2 separate regions of the Homo sapiens genome follow, and region 2 is linked to region 1. Evidence: fine-mapped QTL for protein levels in blood plasma. A gene starts in region 1. The other region holds a variant in brackets. All regions are shown on one strand. Distances are between the middles of the regions.

Region 1 (8,366 bases):
AGCACTTTGGGAGGCTGAGGCGGGTGGATCACAAGTTGAGGAGTTTGAGACCAGCCGGCCAACATGGTGAAACCCCGTCTCCACTAAAAATACAAAGAATTAGCTGGGTGTAGTGGCGGGTACCTGTAATCCCAGCTACTCGAGAGGCTGAGGCAGGAGAATCGCTTGAACTTGGGAGGCGGAGGCTGCAGTGAGCCGAGATTGTGCCACTGCACTCCAGCCCAGGTGGCGGAGTGAGACTCCATCTCAAAAAAAAAAAAAAAAAAAAAAGGCGTAGCAAGGGAACAGGATGCAGGTGGTAGAAATTGAGTAAACTTATTGACTTTTTAAAATTAAAGACTATAACTGAAATGTTGATCTAAAGAAAATTAGGTATGACTAAGCAACTGAATAAATAATAATACTAAAGTGATCCCAACTATTGGAGCTTTTAGAAGACTATGTTCTACTTGGTTGCTTTTCTATAATGTAAGAGGAATACATAGAATATGAAATTGTTGCTTTTGGAAAATATACTTTTAAGATTATCTCAATGAAGAACTGATTTCTCCTGTAGCCTGGTTTTACTAATTTATAAGCAAAATGACTAAAGCTCAGGTATACTATGAAGTTAATTCTTTAATATTTCCCCTGCTAGGAACTCTGTATAGCTTCTGCAGACATGGGGTTTGATGATGTGATATAAGTAGATGTTTATATTTTACAATCCATGAAGGTAGTCTATACTGTGCTCTTAGAACAGCAGCCATCTAATGTCATTCTTAGTTGACAGGTAAACAGTATGTTACGTATGTAATGAGGTTCCACAAAGACAATAGTGTTTTGGAACACTGCAGAGGCAATAATTTGCATATTACCATCATTTTATAGTTATGAATCAGTGACTGTGATGTGTTTCCATTACCCCTATTTTTGAACAGGCGTTCTGTTAAAAGTATTCTATTCCTTTCTTAGATATGGGATGTTTAGGGGAGAGGGGACACATTACTTGTTTTCTTAGTTACAAGTCTCCATGTTGAGAGGAGTTACACTCAAGGATCTTCATCCACATGCACATCTGGTACAGATGACAAGATCCTGGACTTTAAGCCAATGATATGAGACAAAGCATTTTGGGGAGGGATGTAATTTGTTGTGGTCAGAGGGTGGCAAGAGAAACAAGTGACGGTGAAAAAATTCTGGCCTCGTGATTTTTCAGTAATAATTAAGAGCACAATATTACAACTGCAAGGGTGAAGGTATGTGGGCTGAGGGAAAGGGATAGTTTTGGAGGGTGCTATATTGAAGGCCCAGAAGAAGTAAACAAACTTGGAAAAAATTTACTCCACATTGCTAATGACAGCCTGTACTCTGTTTCTATAGCTTTACAACATTGATTATACAAGACAATGCAAAGGAGTTGAAATTAGATTTTTTTTTTTTTTTTTTTTTTTGAGACAGAGTCTCATTTTGTCATCCAGGCTGGAGTGCAGTGGTGTGATCATGGCTCAGTGAAGCCTTGATCTGGGCTCAAGTGATCCTCCTGCTTCAGCCTCCTGAGTAGCTGGGACTATAGGTGCGTGCTACCACCCCTGGACTCAAAATTCGATTTCAAAGATGGCATAAGCGTATTGATAGTGAAATGAGGAACGTGGTTTATTACTGTGGGAAAAGCTTGAGTTTAATGTAAGACAGACTTGGTTTAAAATTTATATTCTGCCACTTACTGATGTGTGAACTTGGGCAAGCTATTTAATACCAGCTGGATGGTCTCATAAATATTTTTATTTTTTATATATTGTTTTGGGAGTATGTCACAAATGTATTTTTTAGAATCCTTCAACTGTCAGTGGCTAGCTCTAATGTGAAAGGAGGTTAGCCTAGAATTTTCTCTGAGTGCCCGCCCTTCTGATGTTAAAAGTCTGAAGCCTACTTAGTAATAATGAGGTTTCAGCCCTTTTGCCTCTAGAGAGAATGAGCGACAGATAATGACAAATGAAAATAGCACTTTAGCTACATGGGAACATAATTTGTGTTCTTACTCCAAAAGCAATTTATGATCATTTTTAAAAATTAAGACTTTTTAAGAGCAGTTTTAGGTTCAAAGCAAAATTGAAACAAAGGTACAGAGATTTCCCATATACCCTCTGCCCCAACACAAGCATAGTCTTCTCTGTTATCAACATCCTCAATCAAAGTGGTACAATTTGTTGTAACTGATGAACTTACCTCATCAATTATTACCCAAAGTCCAATTACCACCCAAATTCCTCCTCATCTTTTCATGGCCTGATCTTTTTTTTTGAGACACAGTCTTGCTCTGTCACCCAGGTTGGAGTGCCATGGTGCCCTCTCAGCTCACTGCAAACTCCGCCTCCCAGGTTCAAGCAATTCTCCTGCCTCAGCCTCCTGAGTAGCTGGAATTACAGGCGTGAGCCACCGCGCCCAGCCAGCTCATTTCTTTTTAGCACTAAATAATGTCTATTGTCTGTATGTATCACAGTTTATTTATTCATTTACCTACTGAAGGACATATTGGTTGCTTCCAAGTTTGGGCAGTTATGAATAAAGCTGCTATAAACAACCATGTGCAAGTTTTTGTGTAGATAAGTTTTCAGCTCCTTTGGGTAGATACCAAGGAGTATAATTGCTAAATCATATGGTAAGAGGATGTTTAGTTTTGTGAGAAACTGCTAAACTCTTCCAAAGTGGCTGTACCATTTTGCATTCCTACCAGCAATGAATGACAGTTCCTGACCCACATCCTCACCAGCATTTGGTTTTGCCAGTGTTCTGGATTTTGGCCATTTTAATAGGTGTGCAGTGGTTGTATGTGTTTTAGAATGGAACAGAAAACACAAGATTGGCTTTGATATTTTGCAAGATAGAAATTCCATTCTGAACAACTGACTTACTGTTTATGCTTGAATCTTTTTTTGTTTTTTTTTTTTTTGGAGACAGAGTCTTGCTCTGTCACCCAGGCTGGAGTGCAGTGGCGTAATATCGACTCATCGCAACCTCCGCCTCCCAGGTTCAAGCGATTCTCATGCCTCAGCCTCCTTAGTAGCTGGGATTACAGGCATGCACCACCACGCCCAGTTCATTTTTGTATTTTTTAGTAGAGATGGGTTTTGCCATGTTGGCCAGGCTGGTCGTGAACTCCTGACCTCCGGTTATCTGCCCGCCTCAGCCTCCCAAAAGTGCTGGGATTACAGGTATGAGCCACCATGCCCGGCCTATGCTTGACTCTTTTATTAGTTGGAGCTGTTAATATTAATAACTTCACCAGGTCAGACAGGTTGAGTGGTAAGTTTGCTGATAGGTTTGATGGCTGCTTCTGAGACCCAGACCCAAAATCTAGGTTTAGCTACGTTAAGAAGGCAACCACTACAGATAAGTGTCCAATCATGAGATCTCTTAAAACAATGATGGAGTCCAACCCTGTTAGGAAAATCCTTTTGCTAGACAGAGAATCTCAGATCTCTTTCCTCCTGGTCATTATGTCTTGGGCTAAAAGGAGGACATTTAACATTTATTGTATGCCAAACAGTGCTAGGCCATTCCGCATGTTATCTTATTTAATCCTCATAATTTATCTATGAAATATTTTCTGTTGTCCCCATTTATAATTCCAAGTTGTTTTTTTTTAACCTTCCCAGACTTTATATCTGCTACCTCTCCGCCTAGAATAGTGTTATGCCTCCTTTTTGCATAATGAATGCCTACTTATTCCTCAGAGCTCATGTCAGATGGTACTATTTTAAGGAAGCCTTCCCAGTCCCCTAGGTTTGTTTCCCTATTAAACTGATCAAAGGCTTGATTCCCTGTTACACTTCACTGATCAAAGTGCACTGATCTCAATAGCACAAATAACAATGCGATTACTCATTTAATATCTGTCATTTCTGCTGAAGTGTAAGCTTCATGAGCACAGTAACTGTGCCTGTATCATTTTTCTATGTTACTTGTAGTGCCAACTATAGTTCCTTGTTCAGTAAGTAATTATTATATGATTATGGCAAATAAATTCCATAAACAGAAGTTGAACGCTGGTCCACTGTAACTTCAAAACCTTCCTTCAAATTATACCATGTGCAGGACCTAAGAAGTCGAGGAAGTATTTCTTAATAAAATTACTCCAGAGGCTCTTCCTGAACTCTATTTCAGTTCTAGGTTGGCTACCTAACGATAAAAGTTAAGCATTAATTTTATGTGGTTAGGGTGTGGTCTGAGATAGAGAACCTAAAGTCTTTAAAGTCTCCCCAGTTCCAAGTAGGTAATCCTTCTGAGAAGTCCCACCTTTCTGAGCAGCTGTGTTTGAAGAAAGCTAGTGGGAAAAGTTCCAGGATTACATGTCAGGAAACTACAAGAGGTAGAAACATTTGTTGATTTACCAGTGTTTTTAACTTCCTGCTGGGCTGAAAACTGCTTGTTTCGTGGAAAAGCAAAACTTGACAGCAAACATCTAAAATGAAGAGCTCCCAAACTTTTGAGGAACAAACGGAATGCATTGTGAACACTCTACTCATGGACTTCTTGAGCCCAACATTGCAGGTTGCCAGCCGGAACCTATGCTGTGTAGATGAAGTAGATTCAGGTAAGGTTCCTGCCCTAGGCGGTGATTGCAGGTCAATAAGAGTATGTTTTCAGCCGGGCGCAGTGACTGATTCCCGTAATCCCAGCACTTTGGGAGGCCAAGGTGGGTGGATCACCTGAAGTCAGGGGTTTGAGATCCGCCTGGCCAACGTGGTGAAACCCCATCTCTACTAAAAGTAGAAAAATTAGCCAGGTGTGGTGGCTCATGCCTGCAGTCCCAGCTACATGGGAGACTGAGGCATGAGAATTGCTTGAACCTGGGAGGCGGAGGTTGCAGTGAGCTGAGATCACGCCACTGCACTCCAGTCTGGGCGACAGAGACTCGGTCTCAAAAAAAAAAAAACAGTATATTTTATTTATTTCCTTTAAGTTTCAAAAGGCAAACTCTAAGCTTTCAGTAACACCTAAAGCGAAAGAGGTTCTCAATGAAGGGAAACTTTCTGACTATTGGTGTTGACAGAACATTTAAGCTCTTGGGAGATCATGATATGAAAATTATTTAAAAGACAAGACAAATTTTTCTCATTGCCCAGATTCCTGGGACTTGCCATTGCTTCAAGCATTGTAACAAATGTGTTCCCTCTGTCATAGGAGAGCCTTGTTCTTTTGATGTGGCTATCATTGCTGGTCGCCTTCGGATGTTGGGTGACCAGTTCAACGGAGAATTGGAAGCTTCTGCCAAAAACGTCATTGCAGAAACCATTAAGGGACAGGTCAAGTTTCTACTTCATGCTATTGTTTGCTGCTTTTTTTTCTATTTCAAACTTCCTTTTCTTACTACTCCCATACTACAGTGACTAGGAATGTTCTATGAAAATATTTGGGTGCTTATATTTCAAGGAAGTATAGCAAGAATTCTCCAATTGCTAAAACCTAAGTGGTACAGAGATGGAAAATTTTGGGCATAGGCTGATGAACCTTCAGTTTGTCTCTACTTGGTCTTCATCACAGCTGTTGTGCTTAGTGTGCACAGAGCACATTTATAACACTTTATTCTTGGCAAAGTATAGTATCTTTTTTTTTTTTTTTTTTTTCAGACAGGGTCTTACTGTGTCACCCAGGCTCAAGTGCAGTGGTGTGATCTCAGCTCACTGCAGCCTCCACCTCCTGGGCTCAAGCGATCCTCCCACTGCAGCCTCCTGAGTAGCTGGGACTTCAGGCAAGTGCTACCATGCCCATCTATTTTTTTTATTTTTTTATTTTTAGTAAAGATGGGTTTTTGCCATGTTGCCCGGGCTGGTCTTGAATGCCTAAGCTCAGGTGATCCACTCACCTCGGCCTCCCAAAGTGCTGGGATTATAGGCGTGAGCTACCACACCCAGCCTATGCTTTTTTTTTTTGAGATGGAGTCTCACTCTGTCACACCCAGGCTGGAGTGCAGTGGCGCGATCTCGGCTCACTGCAACCTCCACCCACCGGGTTCAAGCAATTCTCCTGCCTCAGCCTCCCAAGTACCTGGGACTACAGGGGTGAGCCACCGCGCCTGGCCCATCTGGGCGGATCACCTGAGGTCAGGAGTTCCAGACCAGCATGGCCAAAATGGTGAAACCCCGTCTCTACCTAAAAATACAAAAATTAGCCGGGCGGATCACTTGATGTGAGGAGTTCAACACCAGCCTGGCCAACATGGAGAATCCCTGTCTCTACCAAAAATACAAAACTTAGCTGGGTGTGATGGCCCATGCCTGTAATCCCAGCTACTTGAGAGACTGAGGCAGGAGAATCGCTTGAACCCGGGAGGTGGAGGTTGCAGCGAGCCAAGATCACACCACTGTTCTCCAGCCTTGGCGACAGAGCAAGACTCTGTCTCAAAAAAAGAACCACCCTCTTAACCGTTATGCTTTATTCGTCCTACTATACACAGCTTGGGCAGTGTGCCTACACTATGTTCAGGCAGAGCTGGACCTGTTACTCCCAGTTGCTTGCCCTGAGGCTGTCCTAGGTAGTTGATAGCTGAGTTGACTTTTTTTCTCATTAAACATATTTTTTTTTTTGGCTGGGTGCTGTGGCTCATGCCTGTAATCCCAGCACTTTGGGAGGCCGAGAGGGGCGGACTGCTTGAGGCCAGGAGTTTGAGACCAGCCTGGCCAACATAGTGAAACCCCATCTCTACTAATAATACAAAAATTAGTTGGGCATGGTGGCACACACCTGTAATCCCAGCTACTCGGGAGGCTGAGGTAGGAGAATTGCTTGAACCCAGGAGGCAGAAGGAGGTTGCAGTGAACTGAGATCTCGCCACTGCACTCCAACCTGGGCAACAGAGCGAGACCCTCTCTCAAAATAAATAAATAAATACAAATACAAAAATTAGCCAGGCATGGTGGCACACAACTGTAATCCTAGCTACCTGGGAGGCTGAGACAGGAGAATTGCTTGACAGGGAGGGGGAGTTTGCAGTGAGCCGAGATGGTGCCATTGTACTCCAATCTGGGCGACAGAGCAAGACTCTGTCTCCAAAAAAAAAACATAAATAAATAAATAAATAATTTGACTTGAACTTGTTTTAATAAAAAAAAATATATTTTGAAACAGCCCTAAACTCAGGGAAAGGTTGCAAGGATAGTACAAATAATTTCTCTCTTGAATCATTTGACAGTAAGGAGTTGACATATTTCATCAACCCCTAATACTTTTATACTTCCCTCAAACAAGAACATTCTGTAATGTAACCACAATCTAACCATCAAAACCAGGAAATTAACATTGATTCATTATCATCTAATCCTTAGATCTCATTCAAGTTTTGCCATTTGTCCCGATAATGTAATTTATAGTAAAAAGTTGTAGGCCAGAATCACATACTGCATTTAGTTGTGATTTCTCTTTAGTTTCCTTCAATCTGGAATTTTTCCTTAGTCTTTCCTTGATTTTCATGACCTTGACACTTGAAGACTATGGTCTATCTTGTTGAATGTCCCTTAACTGGGGTTTGCTTGATGTTTCTTCTTGAATAAATTAAGGATATATACCTTTGGCAGGAATATCACAGAAGTATTGCTGTGTTCTCAGTGCATTGCATCAATTGGCACAAGATTTCATTTTATACCAGTATTGATGTTGTTAACTTTAATCACTTAAGATGGTGTCTGTAAAGCTTCTCCTCTATAAAGTTACTCTTTTCCCCTTTGTAATTAATAAGTGTTTTATGGAGAGGTACTTTGAAACTATGTAAATATCCCACATCTCATCAAAATTTCATTGCATTCATTTCTTATCAGCATTGGACCCATGAATTCCTACTTTATTCTGTGGATTATAATCTGTTAACATCATTATTAATTTAGATGCTCAAATCATCCTAGTTTTAGCTAGTGGGAGTCCTTTCACTCTAGACTGCATCTCTTTGATGTGTCTCTATTATTATTTGAGTACTTCCTTAATTTCTGACAGAATATCTTATACTTCCCTAGCCCCAAACTGAAATCAACCATTCTCCAGAGAGCTCTGGTTTCTTTTATTTTTTGAGACGGGGTCTCACTCTGTTGTCCAGGCTGGAGTGCAGTGGCACGATCTCCGCTCACTGCAACCCCTGCCTCTCGGATTCAAGCAATTCTTCTGCCTCAGCCTCCTGAGTAGCTGGGACTACAGGCACACACTGCCACGCCTGGCTAATTTTTTTTTTTTTTTTGTATTTTAGTAGAGACGGGGTTTTACCATGTTGCTCAGGCTGGTCGCGAACTCCTGAGCTCAGGCAATCCGCCCACCTTGGCCTCCCAAAGTGCTAGGATTACAGGTGTGAGCCACCGCCCGCCTTTTTTTTTTTTTGAGACGGAGTCTTGCGCTGTCGC
Region 2 (4,412 bases), 15 kb before region 1:
CTGTGACTCTTAGGAAGATGCCGTACCTTGGCTCCGAGGACGTGGTGAAGGAGCTGAAGAAGGCTCTGTGCAATCCTCACATTCAAGCTGATAGGCTGCGCTACCGGAATGTCATCCAGCGAGTGATTAGGTATCACCTACCTCCCTTCGCGTGCTAACTGCTCCCTTTGCAATCCCCATCAGGGCTCACTAGCCCCAGTCTCTCTGAAAGGGTGAATTAGCTTTCACACGTGGCAGTTATATGGTTCGGTCTTCGTCCTGCTGCTTTGGAGTACCATGTCAGTCTCCCCTCTGCAGCATCTTTTACTCAGCTGGGTAGTTTCCTCCATATCACGGGCTTGAGCAATTACTGGTGACTCTTGGATCTATAATATAGCTAGTACAGACTTCCTTTTTTAGCTTCAGACCCACGTATCCCACTGCCTGCTTGGCATTTCCACGTGCGTGGTTTATCAAAAGTATGTCCGAAATAGCCCGGACATTCTTCCGTCTTCCTCAAACCTGTTCAGCTTACATTTGTGTTGATGAATGCCACCAGCAGCCGACTATGCGTGGGAGCCAACCTTGAGGACACCTGATCTCTCACTTCTTATGTCAGATGGTTTGAATTCATAATTCTAAATATCCATCCTCTCTTGTTTATTAGCATTGTTGTTCTGGTCCAGGCCTTCATCAATAAAGCAATTGCAGCAGCTTACTAGTAGGCCACTTTGCCTCATTTGAGACAGAATTTTTCCATTATACATACCTGAACACATAACTCTTGCCTACAGCTATGGTTCACAAACTTTACTATGCATAAAAATCCCTTGGGGTGCTTTTTGTCATCCAGTCCAGGGACTGATTCTGATTTCAGTAGGGTGGGAGGGAACCCAGGAATCTGTATTTTTAATAAACATTTCAGTTGGTTCCAGTAGGAGACCAGTCTGAGAAACAATAAAGTCCAAACTTATCACAGCACCCAAGGAACAAGCTGTTAATTCAACTACCTACAGACTCTTAAAAAAATGTGTGCTGCTCCTGCTCATGTCTACTTACCTCATAGCATGTATCTTTACCTTGCTATTACATCTGCCTAGTGAGCTCCTGCTCATTCAGCTAAAGTATTACTTCCTCTGTGAAGAAACATTTTCTGACTTCCTGCCAGTGTCAGACCTCTGAATCCCCTCTACACCTTGTACAATACTTCTGTTTAAGTACTTATCTATCATACTGTAATTAACGGTATTCTCATCTGGCTCATTAATAGATTTGAAGTTCCTAGAGGTTTGAGACCACACCTTCTTCAAGATTATGTCCCAAGAGCATGTCCCTGGATGTAAAAGTTGAATTTCACCAAAGTACTAGGGATTCAATAAGTGTTTGTTGAGGCTGGGTGCGGTGGCTCACGCTGGTAATCCCAGCACTTTGGGAGGCCAAGGCGGGTGGATCACCTGCAGTCAGGAGTTCGAGACCAGCCTGGCCAACATGGAGAAACCCCGTCTCTACTAAAAATACAAAAATTAGCTGGGCGTGGTGGCACGCACCTGTAGTCCCAGCTACTCGGGAGGCTGAGGCAGGAGAATCGCTTGAACCTGGGAAGCGGAGCTTATAATGAGCCGAGATTGTGCCACTGCACTCTAGCCTGGGTAACAGAGCAAGACTCTGTCTCAAAAATAATAATAAGTGTTTGTTGAATGAATAGAAGAATAATGTTTATTGTAGGCCTATGGTATGAAGTACTGTGTGATATAATAGACAAGGTAATCCTGGCTGCTACCCTCTAAGAGATCACAATCTAGTTGGGTAATCAGGAGATATGTAAGTAAAACTCCCTCCATTGTAAGTTGGGGATTTTGCATTTTACTTCCTTCTGTCATGTGCGTTGTTCAGGTACATGACTCAAGGCTTGGACATGTCTGGTGTTTTTATGGAAATGGTGAAGGCCAGTGCCACTGTAGATATTGTCCAGAAGAAGTTGGTTTATCTGTACATGTGCACATATGCTCCCCTGAAACCAGATCTGGCTCTCCTGGCCATCAATACGCTGTGCAAAGACTGCTCAGACCCCAATCCAATGGTGCGAGGGCTGGCGTTACGGAGCATGTGTAGCCTCAGGTGAGTACCCTCTTCTCTGTCTGGTCCTAAATGGCTGATGAATTCAAGTGATCACAGGGTAGGTTTTTAAAGAGGATAATTTATTTGAGCTCCTTAATACTGGGGAAAACATTATTGTACCCTGAACTCAGATTTTCAGCCACTGCTTTGGCTTAATAACCTGTATCATATAATTTTATTAGAGGGAGTTTTTGATTCTCACTCTAAGTAAAATAGTCCTCAGTTTTGGTTAAATATCTCTAAACAATTATGTGTATATCTTTTTTTGCTGCCTGTGCATCATTATTCCAAATGAAAAGTCAAATTAGGCTGGGCACAGTGGCTCATGCCTGTAGACCCAGCACTTTGGGAGGCTTAGACAGGAAGATTGCTTGAGCCCAGGAATTTGAGACCAGCTGGGCAAGATGGTGAGAGCCTATATCTACAAAAAATTAAATGGGCATGGTGACACGCACCTGTAGTCTCAGCTACTAGGAAGGCTGAGGCAGGAGGATGGCTTGGGCCCGGGAATTCAAGGCAGCAGTGAGCTATGATCGGGCCACTGGGTGACAAAGTGAGACCCCATCTTGAAAAAAACAAGAAAAAAACAGAAAAGTCAAATTATGGCTTTTTAAGCTTGATAGAGGCTTTCTGCAATTCTTCATGATCTGATGGGTGCAGCATCTACTAAACCATCTGTTAGGTGAACAGGGGCTGAGGTATGTCAAAATTAGTATTTCAGAATCTGGCTAACTCCAGGATGTGTTGCTTAGGATGCCTGGTGTGCAGGAGTATATACAACAGCCTATTCTCAATGGTCTGCGGGATAAGGCTTCATATGTCAGGAGAGTGGCAGTCCTTGGATGTGCCAAGATGCATAATCTTCATGGAGACTCTGAAGTAGGTAAGTTCAGTGTAATCCATCATGGTCAATGTGCCTCCATTATGTATAACTTTAAAAAAGATTGTGTGGCTTTGGTAGAAAATAATAATGTGGCCCCAGTTCTGTACATATCTCTTTAAGTAGGATGCAGGGCTTGGTATCTTCTGGAGATGAGAAGTCCTTTCTCTGGGGCCCCAATGAGATCCTTTGTATTAGCTGCTTAGAACAGTCTGGACATGGCAGTTTTTTTTTTGCCTTGCACTTTAGTGTGGCCTTTGTCATTTTTGTAGCAGAGAAGTTCAACTTTGTCTACCTGGAGCTATTACTCTGGCTACATCCTTGTTACTCTGAAGCTTTCCTTCTTTATCTAAGAACTTTGTTCTTTTTTATAGATGGTGCCCTGGTAAATGAATTATACAGTTTGCTGCGTGACCAGGATCCAATTGTAGTTGTGAACTGCTTGAGGTCTCTAGAGGAAATTCTGAAACAGGAAGGAGG[C/T]GTTGTCATCAATAAGCCCATTGCTCACCATCTCTTAAATCGGTTTGGATGCCTCAGCACTCTTTTTATTATGAGATCTGCTACCTTGTGGGATCTTGTTGATGTATTAAAGTATTGAACAACTTATGTGGGGTAGAAAAGAAAGTTAACCATTATTATTATTATTATTTGAGACGGAGTTTTGCTCTTGTTGTCTAAGCTGGAGTGCAATGGCGCTATCTCGGCTTACCGCAACCTCCGCCTCCTGGGTTCAAGCAATTCTCCTGCCTCAGCCTCCCGAGTAGCTGGGATTATAGGCATGCGCCACCATGCCCGGCTAATTTTGTATTTTTAGTAGAGACAGGGTTTCACCATGTTGGTCAGGCTGGTCCCAAACTTCTGACCTCAGGTGATCCGCCCGCCTCAGCCTCCCAAAGTGCTGGGATTACAGACGTGAGCCACTGCGCCCGGCCAGTTAACCACTATTAACTCCCTCACATTCCACTGAGAGAATTTCTTTTATTTGCCTTACTTTCCCTTATTGATATAGGGAAATAGAAATATACTGTGGGAATAGGTTCTACCCTTCTCTAGTCATGTCCCCCAAACTAAGCCATTTATAGTGTCTTAAAATGTAAGGAACCTGGACCCAGTGTATGCTGATCATGTCTTTGGTCTTAGAGGAGTGTGCATTTGTATTAACAACTCATCTTGGAATTTTAAGCCTTTTTTGTGTAAACTTTAAATAGTACATGAAAAGTGACTTAATTATGGCACAGCCTATTTTTAAGAATTCTCCCTTTGCTATGATGAACAACCACCTGGTCATATGGCAGTGGCATGGAAATGGTCCTAATTTTGTTGCTAAAATAGCTCTTTTGTTTTGTTTTTTGGATAGAATGTCAAAACTGGACCAATGGGGCCAGGCTGAAGTATTGAACTTTCTGCTACGCTACCAACCCCGCAGTGAGGAAGA

Alleles and levels. Alleles are on the strand shown, and positions count from the first base shown. The strength of an association depends on the size of the effect and on how common the allele is.
For the plasma level of the protein whose gene starts at base 4,244 in region 1, allele C in region 2 goes with a lower level than allele T (moderate association).

The links. A credible set is the group of variants that fine-mapping cannot tell apart. PIP is the posterior inclusion probability: the model's chance that the variant is causal. The UK Biobank Pharma Proteomics Project read protein levels with antibody pairs (Olink). The fine-mapping took linkage between variants from a reference panel, not from the people measured, so its PIPs are less certain.
Region 2: its variant is the best candidate, but not a certain one, in a credible set for the plasma level of the BCL2L15 protein (UK Biobank, PIP 0.53).

Annotation. Positions count from the first base shown.
Region 1 is chr1:113,883,459-113,891,824 of GRCh38, reverse strand. It overlaps BCL2L15 (BCL2 like 15), which reads left to right and starts at 4,244. Exons shown (of 4, transcript NM_001010922.3): 1 at 4,244-4,576; 2 at 5,167-5,288. The coding sequence starts at 4,450. All of the region lies in intron 3 of AP4B1-AS1 (AP4B1 antisense RNA 1), which reads right to left.
Region 2 is chr1:113,900,323-113,904,734 of GRCh38, reverse strand. It overlaps AP4B1 (adaptor related protein complex 4 subunit beta 1), which reads left to right. Exons shown (of 10, transcript NM_001253852.3): 1 at 1-130; 2 at 1,873-2,097; 3 at 2,850-2,980; 4 at 3,352-3,499; 5 at 4,335-4,412. The coding sequence starts at 18. It overlaps AP4B1-AS1 (AP4B1 antisense RNA 1), which reads right to left. Exons shown (of 5, transcript NR_125965.1): 5 at 3,498-4,412. It also overlaps a transcript of DCLRE1B not described here. Among named protein-coding and RNA genes, the nearest start is that of AP4B1, 2.3 kb to the left of the region's middle. RefSeq lists enhancers at 1-160, 241-300. The variant C/T (reference allele first, on the strand shown) is at 3,458.